Regions from separate parts of the Homo sapiens genome. Here region 2 is linked to region 1. The links come from fine-mapping of genetic effects on gene expression. A gene starts in region 1. The other region holds a variant in brackets. All regions are shown on one strand. Distances are between the middles of the regions.

What was found. PIP is the estimated chance that this variant, and not a neighbour inherited with it, causes the effect.
Region 2: its variant is the best candidate, but not a certain one, in a credible set for the expression of XYLB in nasal epithelium (TOPMed, PIP 0.55).

Annotation. Positions count from the first base shown.
Region 1 is chr3:38,343,045-38,352,469 of GRCh38, forward strand. It overlaps XYLB (xylulokinase), which reads left to right and starts at 3,741. Exons shown (of 19, transcript NM_005108.4): 1 at 3,741-3,881; 2 at 5,506-5,588. The coding sequence starts at 3,825. RefSeq lists enhancers at 3,518-4,349, 4,350-5,181 and silencers at 3,908-4,147, 4,158-4,217.
Region 2 is chr3:38,381,035-38,390,459 of GRCh38, forward strand. The region is part of intron 15 of XYLB (xylulokinase); the gene reads left to right. Among named protein-coding and RNA genes, the nearest start is that of XYLB, 39 kb to the left of the region's middle. The variant CCTTTCCTT/C (reference allele first, on the strand shown) is at 3,652.

The DNA of each region.
Region 1 (9,425 bases):
TGAGCAGTGGTTTGTAGTTCTCCTTGAAGAGGTCCTTCACATCCCTTGTAAGTTGGATTCCTAGGTATTTTATTCTCTTTGAAGCAATTGTGAATGGGAGTTCACTCATGATTTGGCTCTCTGTTTGTCTGTTGTTGGTGTATAAGAATGCTTGTGATTTTTGTACATTGATTTTGTATCCTGAGACTTTGCTGAAGTTGCTTATCAGCTTAAGGAGATTTTGGGCTGAGACAATACTGGCAAACCGAATCCAGCAGCACATCAAAAAGCTTATCCACCATGATCAAGTGGGCTTCATCCCTGGGATGCAAGGCTGGTTCAATATATGCAAATCAATTAATGTAATCCAGCATATAAACAGAACCAAAGACAAAAACCACGTGATTATCTCAATAGATGCAGAAAAGGCCTTTGACAAAATTCAACAACCCTTCATGCTAAAAACTCTCAATAAATTAGGTATTGATGGGACGTATTTCAAAATAATAAGAGCTATCTATGACAAACCCACAGCCAATATCATACTGAATGGGCAAAAACTGGAAGCATTCCCTTTGAACACTGGCACAAGACAGGGATGCCCTCTCTCACCACTCCTATTCAACATAGTGTTGGAAGTTCTGGCCAGGGCAATTAGGCAGGAGAAGGGTATTCAATTAGGAAAAGAGGAAGTCAAATTGTCCCTGTTTGCAGACGACATGATTGTATATCTAGAAAACCCCAAAATCTTATAATATTTTAAGAAAGTTTACTGATTTGTGTTGAGCTGCATTCAAAGCCATCCTGGGCCACATGCAGCCCATGGGCTGCAGGTTGGACAAGCTCGGTCTAGTGAATTCCACCATTACACCTCTCTCATGATCTCTTTCTGTGTCTTTGATAGCCTTCACAGCTCCCTATGTGGGTTCATCTGTCCACTCTGAGCCCTTTCTGTGCAAACTAACCCACTCTTATTGGGAGCTGACATCTGCTGTCAAAAGACAAAATTACAACAAATTTAAAGATCCTAAATGGATTTTATCTGTGATTCTAGAATTGGACAACACCTCATTCTGTACAAAAGAAGGAGTGTTCCAATGATCTGAGCAAAGGATGTATAACCACCCGACAGGTTCACCTTGCCCACTGCCTAGACAGAGCCAATTTATCAAGACAGGGGGACTGCAATAGAGAATGAGTAATTCACACAGAGCCAGCTGTGTAGGAGACCAGAGTTTTATTATTACTCAAATCAGTCTCCCAGAGCATTTGGGAATCAGAGTTTTTAAGAATAATTTGGTGGGTGGGTGGAGGCCAGTGAGTTGGGAGTGCTGATTGGTTGGGTCGGAAATGAACTCATAGGAATTTGAAGCTATCTTCTTGTGCTGAGTCAGTTCCTGGGTGGGGGCCACAAGATCAGATGAGCCAGTTTATGGAGCTGGGTGGTACCAGCTGATCCATCAAGTGCAGGGTCTCTAAAATATCTCAAGCACTGATCTTAGGTTTTACAATAGTGATGTTATCCCCAGGAGCAATTTGGTGATGGTCAGAATCTTGTAGTCTCCAGCTGCATGACTCCTAAACCTTAATTTCTAATCTTGTGGCTAATTTGTTAGTCCTACAAAGGCAGTCTAGTCACAGGCAAGAAGGAGATTTGTTTTGGGAAAGAGCTGTTATCATCTTTGTTTTAAACTATAAAGTAAGTTCCTCCCAAAGTTAGTTCTGCCTATGCCCATGAATAAGCAATGACAGCTTGGAGGCTAGAAGCAAGATGGAATTGGTTAAGTCAGATCTCTTTCACTGTCTCAGTTATAATTTTGCAATGGCAGTTTCATTAGGCCACGTTAACTAACTTCTCTACACCTCAGTTTCTCACTCTGTAAAATGAAGATGGTAAGTTATACGAAGTTCAAAGTGAGTTTATACTGGTAGACATCAGAATAGTGATTGCCTTGGGAGTTTAGGAAGGGTCATGAAGGAAACTTCTGGAGTGGTGGAAATGTTCTGTTTTGATCTCAGTGTTTATATGGGTATATACATACATTTTTAAAAAGTCATTGGCCAGGCACGGTGACTCACGCCTGTAATCCCAGCACTTTGGGAGGCTGAGGCAGGTGGATCACATGAGGTCGGAGTTTGAGACCAGCCTGACCAACATGGTGAAACCCCATCTCTACTAAAAATACAAAATTAGAGCCATACGCAGTGGCTCACGCTTGTAATCCCAGCACTTTGAGAGGATGAGGCAGGCGGAACACCTGAGGTCGGGAGTTCAAGACCAGCCTAACAAACATGGAGAAACCTCGTCTCTACTAAAAATACAAAATTAGCTGGGCGTGGTGGCGGATGCCTGTAATCTCAGCTACTCGGGAGGCTGAGGCAGGAGAATCACTTGAACCCAGAAGGCAGAGGTTTCAATGAGCTGAAATCACGCCATTGCACTCCAGCCTGGGCAACAAGAGTGAAACTCCGTTTCAAAAAAAAAAAAAAATTAGCTGGGTGCGGTGGTGTGCGCCTGTAATCCCAGCTACATGGGAGGCTGAGGCAGAAGAATCAGTTGAACCAGGGAGGTGGAGGTTGCAGTGACCGGAGATCACGCCACTGCACTCCAGCCTGGGTGACAGGAGTGAAACTCTGTCAAAAAAAAAAAAAAAAGTCATCAAGCAGTTAAGATTAGATTAAAATGCAGTAATCTAATCTTAATTAGATTAGATACTTAGATACCTTTATTTAAAATTTTTTAAAAGTGGAGATAATAGTACCTACTTCCCAGCATCATTGTGACGATTAAATGTGCTCAGCAGGTTGCATAATTGTTTCTGATCTAGCTAGTATCCAGTATTTGTCTATTGTCACAGGTGGTGACTGCTGGAGGGGCTGAGTCCCCAATAAGCTGTGAATGTCTTGGAGGACAAGTATGTTGGCCCCTTCTTGTTCTAGCAGTGAAGAGGATCCCATGTAGACTCCAAGCAGCTCAAGTTCAGCAAGGGAGACAGACCATTGCAAGTGCATGAAAAGGGCACTGGTGGGCTGGGAAGTTCGTAGGAGGAGCCTCTCACATGCTGGGTTTGGGGAGGAATTCTGGAAAGCAGTTAGTCTTAGGGACGGGAAGGATGTAGCTGGTGGGACAGGCGCCCTCAGCTCCATGAATAAAAGGAGTGGGTCTGACTCTGGTTCTCATTCCCCTTTACCATGCCTGGCACACATTAGACCATCAATACCAATTGACTCCAGGAAGGAGTGTCTCCCCGTGGGGGCATCAGGAGCCGCTGAGTTTAAATACACAGGTGGGATGTGACACACTGGGAACCATTCAGATTTGCTGGATCTGGATAGGGCTTGTCAGGACTCAGTGCTTCCAACCCCAGGGCCCATTTCCCTGTGGCCCCTGAGTCACCACCATGGGTGGACAGCTGCTCCAGTGCCAAGATACAGCCACAGAGGACGGCAGGCCCAGGGCCTCCAGAAGGACAGGCAGGCTCCCTCTGAAAGACAAGCCGGCTTATAGCTGAAACCTCTGGCCCAGGCGTCCTCTAAGGGAAGCCAGGCGGTGTCAGGGCACGGCCCATGAAGACATAAGATGAAGATGGGGAGAACCAGAGGGGGTGCGCTTCGAAGGAAAGCGGGCTGCGTGGGGGCACCGTCGATTGCACAGGACGCGGTCCCGGCTCGCGTAGCCCCGCAGGCGGCGCCAGAGCGCAAGCCCGCCTCGTGACTCCGGTCCACAGTCCGGCCGGGCGGAGCTAGGGGCGGGCCCCTGCGTCTCTGGGCGCTGGAGCGCGGCGACTATCACGCCGCGTGGCGGACGGACGGACTGACGGACGCGCAGCCTTACCCGAAAGGCCATGGCGGAGCACGCCCCTCGCCGCTGCTGCCTGGGCTGGGACTTCAGCACGCAGCAGGTACAGTCGCCTGGCCGCAGGGCCACGGGGCCGCCTCCTCCGCTTCGGTGGGGGTAGGGGGCGGGCTGTCACCCGGACGCGGGAAAACATGGGCCCGGCCGCGGGCGCGCCTACCTCTCGGGCTTCCCGGGGCCCCCGCGCCCCTGCCCTGCGCGCGGCCGTGGGGCGCCGGTGCCCTCGCCCGGAGATGCCCTGCCAATGCCACCCGCTCGCAAGATGCGGCCTCGACCCCGCCTGGACCCAGCTACCCCAGGAAACTGCAGGCGCTCCTCGGCAGGACCCCCGGTGCCCAGAGGGGCCGGAGGACTCGGCGGGTTCCTGCGCTGTTCTGGGCACCCAGTGACGGGGATCCGAAGGAAGTCAGCTACTGTAAGGCAGGGGAACAGACAGGCGGGTAGCCCTGCGCACATGCACAACCAGTGACCTGGAAGCAGATTATAGCCCAAAACCTTTTTTTAAAAATTGAAATGGCCCAGGCCTGGTGGCTCTTGCCGGTAATCCCAGCACTTTGGGAGGCCGAGGCGAGTGGATCGCTTGAGCCCAGGAGTTCGAGACCAGCCTGGGCAATATGGAGAAACCCCGGTCTCTACCAGAAAATACAAAAATTAGCCGGGCATGGTGGAGCACACCTGTAGTCCCAGTTTTTCTGGAGGCTGAAGCGGATCGCTTGAGCCCAGGAGGTGGAGATTGCAGTGAGCTAAGATGGCGTCACCGGTCTCCAGCCTGGGCGACAGAACGGGACCCTGTCTCAAAAAAAAAAAAAGAAAAAAGTGAAATGCATAGTGTACAAGTGGACTTTACCCTGTGACCGCCCTTCGTTGACACCAGCTTGCCTGGTCTGTGCACCCAGGACTGCTGGCCAGAGGAGCAGTGTGCTGCTGCCAACGCCCTGCAGACAGGCAAGCAAATCAAAATTTGCCTTCAAAGAGGGCATGGGGTGACCGGGGGCACCTTTTCCTTTAAAGTACTTGGGAAATATACACAGTTGCAGTCAAACCCCTCTTCTCGAATGGGTCAAGGGAGGCAGGCCTCTGGCCAGTCCTTGGGGGAACGTCCTGTGGGACTCTGGATGACTCGAGTTGCCTTGCTGGACCTCAGTTTTCCCATCTGTCCAGGAAAGGAGTTATACTCCCAAGCTTGGAGATTGCTTCAGTGGGACATTAATGTCTCTGGACCACAATCATGGCCTGTGAGAATAGCCCATGGCCTTGCCTGGTCTCAGGCCTCTGCAGACATGGATCCCCAGAGATGCCTCCAAACCTTGCTTCCCATTCCTTCCTCTCTGGCACTTTCTCCCGCCTCCTTGTCAGGTGCACGAACCAACTCATCTGTGAACATCTTCCTCTAGAGGGTCTTGGCTTTGGCTATTTGGGGAACAAAGATTCCTTGAGACATGTGGGTGTTCCTACTTAGCCTCAGTTTCTTCATTTTACTAAATCTTTGAGTGTTACCCCAGATGAGTCCTCTGTTACCACGATTACGGTGAGGCAGCCCTGCCTTCAAGGAGGTCTCTAGGTTGAACTGCTCCTAGGGTGTGGGGCCTCATCTGGTGACGTTAGTACCCCCTGGACCAGTGTAGAAGCTGAGGAAAATTCTACACTTCCTTTTTTAAAATGCCTTTCAGGTAAAGGTTGTTGCTGTTGATGCAGAGTTGAATGTCTTCTATGAGGAAAGTGTGCATTTTGACAGAGATCTTCCAGAATTTGGGTATGTACTTGATGTGCATGTGTGTGTGATGGGGGTGTTGGTTTTGGGGTCCTCCCGCAAACTTTTGTATTCGCAGACCGCACTGTTGAGGCTTTGCCAAATACAGGAGTGGTGGTCTCGGCAGACCTTTCAAGCATCTTTTTTTCCTATACCTAGAGTGCCATCTCCCCCATTTCTTCCTAATTCCATTCATCCATTCATGAAGTAAGCATCAGTTGAGACCTACTTTGTGCCAGGTGCTAGGACCTGATGGCGAAACAAAAAGAGAAAGCTCTCCCAGAGCTTCCCACTGAGTAGTGGAGACTGGTATCAAACAAAGAATCTCACAAAAGAGTGTTTCATTATAAACTCTGAGAAGGCCTCTGAAGGAAAGGAACTCACTTCTCCAAGTGCTTATTATAAAGGAATGTGACTCAGACTTGGGAGGGGAAGTCCCAGAGCGTCTCTAGGGAAGTGGTGCTTAAGCTAGAGATCAGAGTGAGTGAAGTTAGCCAAGCGATGGAAGGGAAGTTGGCCAGGTGATGGAAGAGCATTCCAGGCAGAAGGAACAACATGTGCGAGGGCCCTGTGGCAAGAAAGAGCATGGTTCATTCCTTCATGCAATTGAAGAAAGCCAATGATGCTGGGGAGCAGAGAGAGGCGGAGGCTGGTCAGAGCTCCATAGGCCATGGTATAGAGTTTGTCTTTATTCTAAAAGCTATGGTCAGCCACTAAGGGCCATAAGGGGTAGGGGTATGGGTGAGGTATGAATGACAGGTTGTATTTTTGTTTTGAAAATATCTCTCTGGGGGCATTGGGAGAACAGATTCGGAGCATTGCTGGAATGGACGTGGGGAACTATTAAAGAGGTTTTTGCTGGTCATTCAGGTATGAAATGATGGATAGGAGAGAGCTGAGTAGTAAAATGGACAGGTCCTGTTACAAAATTGAATGTGAGATGTAAGGGTGGGATTTCTGGCTGTCCTTCAGAGTGGATGTTGGACTGTGGGAAAGAATGAGTTTTGGAGAGAAAGATCATGAGTTCAGCTTGGGCTGCCATAACAAGGTACCATAGACTGGGTGGGTTAAAGAGCGGAAATTTATATTCTCACACATCTGGCCGTTAGGAGTCTAAAATCAAAGTGCTGGGAAGATTGGTCTCCTCTGGGACCTCTCTCCTTGGCTTGCAGGTGACCACTCTCTTGCTGTGTCTTCACATGGTGGTCACTCGGTGCAGGAGTGCTTGGTGTCTCTGTCATCTGTATCCTAATCTTCTTATAAGGACATGAGTCATACTGGATTAAGGCCCATTCTAATGACTTCATTTTAACTTAATTGCCTTTTTAAAGGCCCTGTCTCCAAATAATCACAATCCAAGGCCCTCGGGGTTAGGATTTCAGCATATGAGTTTTAGGGGCAGAGGGGGCACAATTCAGTCCGTAACACTGTGGACTTGCTGGTTTTGAGGCACCCTCGTGAGGGCCTGGTAAAAGTGTCCTTCCCTGTCTGTTTTAGACACACTTCCTCTTTGAAGCCTTCCCAGCTGACCCTTTGTGCACCTCTCATTACCCATCACATTGTGTTGCCAACTCTTTGCCCCCAGCTAATGCGGCCCCATGGAGCCGAGGTTAGAAGCCATCTTGCTTTCTCACATTTTTTATTATTGCAGGCCTTGCATGTTTGCCTTTGGGTAGTTGGTATGTTTCAAGGAATTGGTCTTTTCAACTAAGCCATCAAATGTGTGGCCATAGTGTTGTTCATAATATTCCTTTATCCTCCTTATGACATCTGTGGGACCAGTAATGATGATCTCTTGCTGTTGGTCATTTCTGATATTGGTAATTTGTCTTCTCTCTTTTTTTCTTTGGTTATCCTGGCTAGAGGTTTATCAATTGTATTGATCTTTTCAAAGTTCAACTTTTGGTTTTGTTGATTTTCCCCTGTTGTTTTCTTCAAGTTGTGCTCTAATTTTTATTACTTAGTTTCTTCTGCTTGCTTTAGGTTTAAATTGCTCTTTTTTCCCTAGTTTCCTCAAGTGGAAACTTAGAGGATTGATTTAAGACCTTCTTTTCTAATATATGCATTTAATGCTATAAATTTCTCTGTAAACACAAATGCTTTTTATGGGATGCCTTAGCAGCATCCCATACATTTTGATAAGTTATAGTTTCATTTTTTTTCGTTCAAAATATTTTTTAGTTCTCTTGAGACTTCTTTGACTCATGGGTTATTTAGAAGAATGTTTTTAGGCTGGGTACAGTGGCTCACACCTGTAATCCCAGCACTTTGGGAGGCTGAAGCAGGCAGAACACTTAAGGTCCGGAGTTTGAGACCAGCCTGGCCAACATGGTGAAACCCTGTTTCTACTAAAAATACAAAAAAATTAGCTGGACGTGGTGGCAGGCATGGTGACAGGCACCGTGTATGCTGCACGCCTGTAATCCTAGCTAGCTGGGAGGCTGAGGCAGGAGAATTGCTTGAACTGTGGAGAGGGAGGTTTCGGTGAGCCAAGATCGCGCCACTGCACTCCAGCCTGGACAACAGAGGGAGAGCCTGTCTCAAAAAAAAAAAAAAAAAAAAAAAAAAAAGGAAGTCTGGAAGTGTGTTGTTTAATCTCCAGATTTTCCAGTTTTCTGTTATTGATTTCTAGTTTAATTTCATTGTGGTCTGAGAACATACCCTATATGACTTCTAGTCTTTCAAAATTTTAAAATTTCCTCTCCCTCACTCTCTCTTCCACTTAATAAGTCAGTCCTCTCCACTGGACATTTAAAAAAAGGTGTCCATAACCAAAATATGGTATTGCTTTTTTCCATTATATTTTCAAGATATTTTAAACCAGATGCCTATAGATTTAGTTCATTCCTTCCCCATCACCTCAATTGCATTGTGGGTTTTCTTTTTACAACTTTATTAAGGTATAACTGATGTACAATACTGTGCATATTTGGAGTATACAGTTAAAAGCTTTAATATCTGTATTCTTTCATGAAACTATCACCAAAATAAGACAATGAGTATTTCCATGTCCTAAAAATTTCCTCCTGCCTCTTTGCAAGCGATGCCTCCTTCCCCATACCCCTACCCACTGGCAACCGCTGATGTGTTTTCTATCACTAGTTTGTATTTTCTAGAATTTTGTATAGATGGAATCATAATTATGTATGCTTTTTTAAAACCTTTAAAATTTTACATCACAGTTTTGAGATTCATCCATGTTGCTACATGTGGCAATAGTTGGTTCCTATTATTGCCGAGTAGTATTTCATTGTATGATGTTGTATGGATGGACTACAATTGGTTTCACCTGATGAGGGATATTGGGGTTGTTTCTCTTTTCTGTTGTTATAAGCAAAGGGCTATGAGAGTCACATACAAGTCTTTTCGTGGACATATGATTTCATTTTTCTTGGAAATGACATACCAGGAGTACAGTGGCTGAGTTATACGGCAGGTATATGTTTAACTTCTTAAGGAATTCTCTTCCAAAGTGGTGATTTTAAGAAAAAAAATTTTATATTGTTAACAGGCATTACATTGCACTTAATATGTAACTCAATGAAAAGTATACAGTGAAAAGTCTTTTTTTTTCTTTTTTTCTTTCTTTTTTTGAGACAGAGTCTGGCTCTGTCGCGCAGGCTGGAGTGCAGTGGCACGATCTCGGCTCACTGCAAGTTCCGCCTCCCGGGTTGTCCTCCATTAGGAAATGGTACATCTACACAATGGAATACTACACATCTATAAAAAAGAACACAGAAGTTTTTATGTATTGACATGTAAACACAGCCACGTTACTGTGAAGTGAGTAAAGCAAAGTACAGATCAGTGAGTATAGTATGCTTTCTCTTGTATGAAAGG
Region 2 (9,425 bases), 38 kb after region 1:
CCGAGGCAGGTGGATTGCTTGAGTCCAGGAGTTCGAGACCAGACTGGGCAACATGGTGTGTTGCGGGAAGTCAGGGACCCCAAACGGAGGGACTGGCTGAAGCCATGGCAGAAGAATGTGGATTGTGAAGATTTCATGGACATTTATTAGTTCCCCAAATTAATACTTTTATAATTTCTTACACCTGTCTTTACTGCAATCTCTAAACATAAATTGTAAAGATTTCATGGACACTTATCACTTCCCCAATCAATACCCTTGTGATTTCCTATGCCTGTCTTTACTTTAATCTCTTGATCCTGTCAGCTGAGGAGGATATATCGCCTCAGGACCCTGTAATAATTGCATTAACTGCACAAATTGTACAGCATGTGTGTTTGAGCAATGTGAAGTGTGGGCACCTTGAAAAAAGAACAGGATAACAGCAATTGTTCAGGGAATAAGAGAGATAACCTTAAACTCTGACTGCTGGTGAGCTGGGCAGAACAGAACCATGTTTCTCTTCCTTCAAAAGCAAATGGGAAAAATATCGCTGAATTCTTTTTCTCAGCATGGAACATCCCTGAAAAAGAGAATGTGCGCCTGCGGGTAGGTCTCTGAACTGGCCCCCCTGGGCGTAGCCTGTCTCTTATGGTTGAGGCTGCAGAGATGAAATAAACTCCAGTCTCCCATAGTGCTCCCAGGCTTATTAGGAAGAGGAAATTCCCACCTAATAAATTTTGGTCAGACTGGTTGATCCCAAAACCCTGTCTCCTGATAAGATGTTACCAATGACAATGGTGCCCGAAACTTCATTAGCAATTTTAATTTCACCTCGGTCCTGTGGTCCTGTGATCTCACCCTGCCTCCACTTGCCTTGTGATATTCTATTATCCTGTTAAGTACTTGATGTCTGTCACCCACACCTATTCGCACACTCCCTCCCCTTTTGAAAATCCCTAATAAAAACTTGCTGGTTTTTGTGGCTTGTGGGGCATCACGGATCCTACCAACGTGGGATGTCTCCCCCAGACACCCAGCTTTAAAATTTCTCTCTTTTGTACTCTGTCCCTTTGTTTCTCAAGCCAGCCGATGCTTAGGAAAAATGGAAAAGAACCTACGTGATTATCGGGGCAGGTTCCCCGATAATGGTGAAACCCCTTCTCTACAAAAAATACGAAAATTAGCCAGGCGTGGTGGCACATGCCTGTAGTCCCAGCTACTCAGGAGACTGAGGTGGGAGGATCGCTTAAGCCTAGGAGGTTGAGGCTGCAGTGAGCCATGAGACCCTGTCTCAAAAAAAATAAAAAAAGCAGATGAAACTATTTACTATTGTTGGAAGTCGGGATAATTAGTAGTTACCTTTCAGAAGGGGCCTGTGGGGTGCTGTCAATGTTCTGTTTCATGTTCCATGGGTGTGTTTAGTTTTTAAAAATTTATGAACATTATAGGCTTATGATGTGTGCATTTTTCAGGATGTGTGTTCTAGGTCAATACAAGATTTTAACATGTGTAAAATGACCACCATGAGCATTCTGATTGCCCTCATCCCACCACCCTAAGTGTAAAAAGACGTTTCCTAAAGGTCTGCAAAGACTTCCAAGTTCCCTGAAAATGAGACTGGGTGAGCAGGGCAGGGTTGGTGCTGGAGTTGGTGGAGTGCCTGGCAGGGGTCCTCCGGCTGTCAGAAGAGAACCCCAGGGAACGGAACAGCCCAGCATACAGGGAGAAGCAGTTAGGGCAAAAGGCCCCCATGGGCTCAGGAGGAGCTGATGGGATTGTGGCATTATTCCCAGCCTCTAAGGCATTTCTTGTGCAAAACAGCATAGAGTTACTTATCCTCTTAGCAAGCTTAAATGCAGAATCAGACCTGTCTTGCCGCTCTGCTGAGTGATCACTTAAATAGACATACTTGGAACCAACAGAGGTTGCACGCACGTGAGGACTCATTCTCCAGGCTGCTGTGTGGACTGGCCAGCTCTTTCGTTCTTGCCCAGACATCATCTCATTTGGCTTTAATAGTGTCTAAGGGCAATAAAGAGGCACTTTGAATAAAAATGATTATTGTGATACTAACAGCTGCCAGCATTTGTTGGGCACTGAGTGTGTGCCCGGCCCAGTTCCTTAGCAATTAATCTTTATTAACAACAGTACCGCTGAAGTAGGTACTGATATGATTCCCACTTCACAACCGAGGAAACCAAATCTTGCAGTGGTTAAATAACTTGGTCAGGGCTGGCAGAGCTGGGATCTGAACCAAGCCAGTCTGGCTCCAGATGCTGGATTCTCAACCACTGGCTGAACCTGCTTTTTTTAAGGAACAATCGCCCTCTTGATGTTTATAGACACCATCAGACATGATAGAAACCAGCTGGGCAGGGCTAATAAGCCATAGTTTTCAGTTTATATTTCAGTGTGTTTCATGTTGTTTAGGTTGATTGTAAAAACAGTCAAATCTTGTAATAACAAGTTTGAAAAATAAAGAAAATGGGCCTGGTGCTCACACCTGTAATCCCAGCACTTTGGGAGGTGGAGGCGGGAGGATCACTTGAGCCCAGGAGTTTGAGACTGGCAACAGAGAGACCATATCTTCACAAATAATAATAATTATAAATATCCCAGTATAGTGGCATGTGCTTGTGGTCCCAGCTACTGGGGGTGGGGTGGCAGGGGTGGCAGGAGGCCGGGGGGATCGCTGGAGCCTGGGAGGTCAAGGCTGCAATGAGCTGTGATTGCACCACTTCACTCTAGCCTGGGCGACAGAGCGAGACCATGTCTCAAAAAAATAAAGGAAAATGACTCATAATCCCATCCCCTCTCTCCAACCACTGGTATCATTTAGGGACATTTTCTCCCAGTCTCCTTTATGAGCTTATTTCCATACAGCCATAGTTTTGTTCCTTTGTACCTTATATGCAAAGGGTGTATACAAGAACCAAAGTTTGTCAGAAGTCATCTTTGTGGTGCTGCGTATGATGGCCAGGTTACTTTTCCTGCATTTGGGCACTGAGGGTGTTCTTGTTTTTTTTGTTTGTTTGTTTTCTTTGTTTTGTTTTGTTTTGTTTTTCTGGAGACAGGGTTTCACTCCTGTTGCCCAGACTGGAGTGCAGTGGTGTGATCTTGGCTCACTACAACCTCCGCCTCCCGGGTTCAAGTGATCCTCCTGCCTCAGTCTCCTAAGTAACTGGGACTACAGGTGCACACCACCACGCCCAGCTAGTTTTGTATTTTTAGTAGAGACGGGGTTTCACCGTGTTGGCCAAGCTGGTCTCGAACTTCTGACCTCAAATGATCCACCTGCCTCGGCCTCCCAAAGTGCTGGGATTGCAAGTGTGAGCCACCGTGCCTGGCCATTGTTCTTGGTTTTCCAACGTGGAATCACACTAGAGCATCTTCCATAGCTTGAATTATTTCCCCAGGAGGATGGCAGTCCTTCTCTCTTCCCAGACACTGTCTTCACGGCCAGCGATGAAGATGGGAGAAGCTGAGAGGTGGGGGCTGAATGTCTTCTTCTGGACAGAGCCAAGGGGCTGGATGGAAAGCAGCAGGTCTTAAAAACAACTATTTGTTTTAAAATACATAACGAATGGATGTCTTTTTATCACAAAAGATTCATGCAAAACAGAAATATGGAATAAGAAGCAAATGCCCCCTTCATTTGCCTCCCAGACT[CCTTTCCTT/C]CTTTCCAGACTGTGACTTCCTTCCTGTGAGTTTCTGTGTTAGATTGAATCATACGGAATTGCCAATATTGAAGAAGTTTTGATTTACAAAAATGGCAATTTCATATGGTTCGACCTGACACGTGTGTGTGTGTATATATTTAACAGAAATGCTATTACATTCTATGTGTTATTCTGAGACTTGCTTTCCATAACAGTATGTACAGGTCTACCTTTTTGTTTTCTAATGACTGGCATGAGGTCTGATAAATTATTTTATAGCCCTAGTTGAAGGACATTAAGATTATTTCTTGTTTTGTTTTGTTTTTGTTTTTGTTCTTGTTTTGAGACAGAGTCTCACTCTGTCACCCAGGCTGGAGTGCAGTGGTACAATCTCAGCTCACTGCAACCTTCGCCTCCCGGGTTCAAGCGATTCTTGCACCTCAGCCACCTGAGTAGCTGGGATTACAGGTGCGCGCCATACCACCTGGCTAATTTTTGTATTTTTGTAGAGACGGGGTTTCGCCATGTTGCCTAGGCTGGTCTCAAACTCTTGACCTCACGTGATCCACTCATCTTGGCCTCCAAAGTGCTGGGATTGTAACCTCCACTTTCACCATCTCATTCTATGCCCTATACCCTTGTCCCTAGTTCATTCTTGTTTGTGTATTTTTTTTCCCTTGAGCATGTTAGCTAAAGGTTGGTATATTTTATTAAGCAATGTTAATATTTTGTTTTGTGCTCCCTTTTATTAATTTCTAATTTTATCTTTTTAAATGCTTTCCTTCTACTTTATGAATTTTTTCTTTTTCTGTATTTTTAAGTTGAAATTTTAGCTCATTTATTCCTATCCTGTATTAACTTCTAATTTATGCATTTCAGAATGCTACATGTTAACTTTATTTACATAACATATCTTTCATTTCTAAAAAGATAGTAATTTTCATCTTTTTCTGCATCAGTGAGTGGTCCTTCAAACTGGCCCCTCGTCCTTTTGACATATCTTCCATCATTCCTTGAGCATTTCCATAGCTTCTAGTATAAAAAAAGTTTCAGGCTCATCTTGTTTTTTCCTTGGATCAGCCTTGTAATCTTCCATTTATCCAAGGGGCCCTGACTTCTCTGAGTGGGAGAGATGTTTGGATGCTCTCTCTGGATGCTCATTGCTACTGGGATGATGCTGTTCCCAGCCCCTTTCAGTGGGCTGAGCTGGGAATATGTAAGGATATATAACAACCCCTTTCAGTGGGCTGAGCTGGGAAATATTAGGATATATATATACATATCCAAATATATATATGTCTGTATCAATACACACGTTACCTTTCTATTTGTCTGTCTGTCTACTTCTCCATGTGTTGAAAAACATGAGTTCAACCCTATACACTCTACTTCCAGTCCAACACCATGGGGTTCATTCTGGCTTTCTTCCTTCCCATATTTGTATCTTATCCTAACAGTGACAAAGTTGATTCTTCTGACCCCTCCAGATTGCTGCCTCCTTGACATGCAAGCCCCATTTTGGCTTCTCTGCTTACCCTTACCTGTGTTGTCTCTGTGTCGTCTCTCCAGCAGCCTCTTGAATCTGCCCCACTCTGGTTATGTACTTACATGTGGCCCTTGAGCCACTTCTGTTTGCCTATTTAATGGCTTTTTAGAGAAGGAAGAAGAAAAAAGAAAGGTAGGAAGGTAGACAGGCAATAAATATTTTTAAAGGGAAGGGTCCATTTACATTTAATGTAATTATTGAAATGATTGGATTTAATTGAATCTATCCATTTATTTTTTATTTTTTTAATCCATCCATTTACAAAATGGATTACATATCAATTTTTCTTTTTCTTTTCTTTTGTTCTATATGTTCTTTTTTCTTTCTTATTCTTTTCCTGTCTTATTTTTGGATTAACTGAGCAATGTCTAGTATTCCATTTTATCTCCTCTGTTGGCTTTTTAAGGTATACACTTTTTAATTGATTTTTAAATTGAAATCCTTAATTTGAAAAGTCTGGTTTGCACTAATATTATACACTTGAATTTTTTACGAACATGCTTGCACTACAAGAATGACTAAAGGATGTCTTCCGGGCTAAAGGGAAAATCATACCAGATGGAAAGTCAGAGCTTCAGGAAGGAATGTAGAACATCTATAAAAAGTGGATTCTCTTAAGTTTTACTTTGTCTGAAAATGTATTTATTTTACTTCATATTAAAATAATGTTTTCTGCTGTGGAATTCTAGGTTGGCACTTTTTACTTTCAGCACTCTGAAAATGTCATTTCATTGTTTTCTTGACTTCTAATGTTTCAGATAAGAAATTAACTGTCATTCTTAATGTTATTCTCCTGAATGTAATGGGGTTTTCTTCTCTGGCTGATTTAAGATTTTTCTATTAATCTTTGATTTTCAGCAGTTTGATTATGATATACCTAAGTAAGGGTTTTTTAATTATTATTTTGTATGTATCCCCTTTGTGATTCACTGAGCTTCTTGGATCTGTGGGTTAATGTCTTCCATCAATTTTGGAAAATTCTTAGCCATTATTTCTTCAAATATTTATTTTTCCCTATTCCCTCTTTCCTTTCCTCTGGACTTCAGTTACACATCTGCTGTTGTCCCATAGGACTTTGATTTTCTATTCTTTTTTTTTTTTCTCTCTCTCCCTGCTTCAGTTGGACAAGTTCATTTTTTGTTTTGTTTTGTTATGTTTTGTTTTTTTGAGACAGAGTCTTGCTCTGTTGCCCAGGCTGGAGTGCAGTGGCATGATCTCGGCTCACTCCAACCTCCACCTGCTGGGCTCAAGCGCTTCTCCTGCCTCAGCCTCCTGAGTTGCTGGGACTACAGGCAAGCGCCACCACATCTGGCTAATTTTTTGTATTTTTAGTAGAGATGGGGTTTCACCATGTTAGGCAGGCTGGTCTTGAACTCCTGACCTCAGGTGATCCGCCTGCCTCAGCCTCCCAAAGTGCTGGGATTACAGGCATGAGTCACTGTGCCCGGACTTCAGATGGACAATTTCTATCACACCTCTTTTTATTCATGTTTCTGCTGTAGACAGTCTGCTATTAAGTCCATCTAACAAATTCATTTTGGATATTATATTTTTTCTATTTCTAGAATTTCCATTTCATTCTCTTATACTTTCTTATGTCTCTGCTGAAATTTTTCATATTTTAACCATTTTGTCCATCTCTTCCTCTGACTTTATATCATCTTTATAATTATTATAAAGCTCCTATCTGCTAATTCATCTCAGAGTCTGCTTTTATTTACTATTTTACTGCCATTTCCTGCTTCTTAAAATGCTATTTAATTTTGTTTGAATGCTGTACGTTGTGTTTAAAAGTACGGTGTTGACTAAAGTGGCTAATTTTTAAACCTTTTACTTTTGAGATAATTGTAGATTCACATGCAGTTGTTAAATAAATAGCTAATGTTTACCTGCAGAAAAGGCTTGCCCTTCTATCAGGAAGTGCGGGTGAGGTGGTGGTTTTTTTTTGTTTTTTTTTTTTTTTTTTTTTTACTTTTATCATTTAATTTTTATTTTTAAAAATGTATATAGTAAAAAAGCTGGGTTGCGGAGATGTCGGTCAGTGGATTAAAAATTTTGGTTAGGGTACAGGAACATATTCAAGAGATTTATTGTACAACATGGTGATGATAGTTTATAACAGTGTATTGTATTCGTCAAAATTGCCAAGAGATTTTAGGTGTTCTCACCACAAAAGATAAGTATGTGAAGTAATGCATAAGTTAATTAGCTCAATTTAGTCATTCCACAATATATACATATTTCAAAACATGTTGTATAGGATAAATATGTGCAATTTTTATTGTCAATTTAAATAAGTAACAAAATAAGTAAAAAAAAGTCTAGAAGCCTATATAACAGCATACTAACAGTGTAACTCTGGTGTAACTAGGGTTGGTTTTTACTTTCTTCATTTTGTCTTTTCTAATTTTTTGTATAGTAACTTTTATCACTGGGCTTAACAGGAATCTAAAAAATGTATTTTTAGCAATTGTTATGTTATATCCACAACATGATCTATATATTTTGTCAGGGAGGTTTATTTTTTGACTCAGAACTAGTTTGTTCTTGAAATATGTACTTTATTCTTTTAATTAGGGCTTAAAATGTTAAAATATTTCTAAAGAGGACTATTTTGGGACTCTACAGTGTACCTCTTTAATGAGAACACCCACAGTTTAGGCCTATTAAGGCATACTTCCTTTATTTTACTAAAGAATTAAAATAATAAAGATTTGATAATTTTCTTTCTTTTTTTTTTTTATTGATCATTCTTGGGTGTTTCTCGCAGAGGGGGATTTGGCAGGGTCATAGGACAATAGTGGAGGGAAGGTCAGCAGATAAACAAGTGAACAAAGGTCTCTGGTTTTCCTAGGCAGAGGACCCTGCGGCCTTCCGCAGTGTTTGTGTCCCTGGGTACTTGAGATTAGGGAGTGGTGATGACTCTTAACGAGCATGCTGCCTTCAAGCATCTGTTTAACAAAGCACATCTTGCACCGCCCTTAATCCATTTAACCCTGAGTGGACACAGCACATGTTTCAGAGAGCACAGGGTTGGGGGTAAGGTCATAGATCAACAGGATCCCAAGGCAGAAGAATTTTTCTTAGTACAGAACAAAATGAAAAGTCTCCCATGTCTACTTCTTTCTACACAGACACAGCAACCATCCGATTTCTCAATCTTTTCCCCACCTTTCCCCCTTTTCTATTCCACAAAACCGCCATCGTCATCATGGCCCGTTCTCAATGAGCTGTTGGGTACACCTCCCAGATGGGGTGGTGGCCGGGCAGAGGGGCTCCTCACTTCCCAGAAGGGGCGGCCGGGCAGAGGCACCCCCCACCTCCCTCCCAGACGGGGCGGCTGGCCGGGCGGGGGCTGACCCCCCACCTCCCTCCCGGACGGGGCGGCTGGCCGGGTTTTTTTTTGTTTAATCAGGGGTTGGATCAGTACTAGTTAGTTTTAGTTCACCAGTAGTTGCAGTGTCTTGGGATCAGGATCAGCAGGATCAGGCCCCTCCCTCCATCAAGTCTTTGGGACCTAACCACTGAGATTACAGAGCTCTTTCTCTGTTTTCCAGCTCTTCCCCCACTTCCACATCACTGCTTCCATAGTAGTTCACTGGAGACATTTGGTGGGTAGGGAGGACTAGCTCTATATTGGAGACTCTTCCAGATTTCAGTCCTCCATACCAGCCCAAATGTAGTTGTTTTTCTTTTCTAGCAAATTTTATCTGCCTGTAGAGTCTTACTTCTTCATGTCTCCCATGCTGCAGGTATGAATCAGCACTTAAGGGCTCATCTCATTCTGGAATTTATTTTATTTAGACTTCTTGAATTTACAATTTTTTGATAGCTTCAAGCAAAAATATGATGCTCTGGTTGTTGTTGTTTATTCCATTCTGTCATTGTTACAGCACAAATGTGTTCTTTCTTGACCATCATCATCTTAGCTGGAAGTGGAACTATATGTCTTTTATTAGATTAAGGTTTATTATTATTTTACTATTTATTTTTATTTATTTATTCTAAAATGGAGTTTCACTTGCTCTGTGGCCCAGGCTGGAGTGCAATGGTGCATTCTCGGCTCACTGCAACCTCTGCCTCCTGGGTTTAAGCAATTCTCCTACCTCAGCCTCCTGAGTAGCTGGGATTACAGGTGCCCACCACCACACCTGGCTAAGTTTTGTATTTTTAGTAGAGACGGGGTTTCACCATATTGGCCAGGCTGGTCTCGAACTCCTGACCTCAGGTGGTCTTCC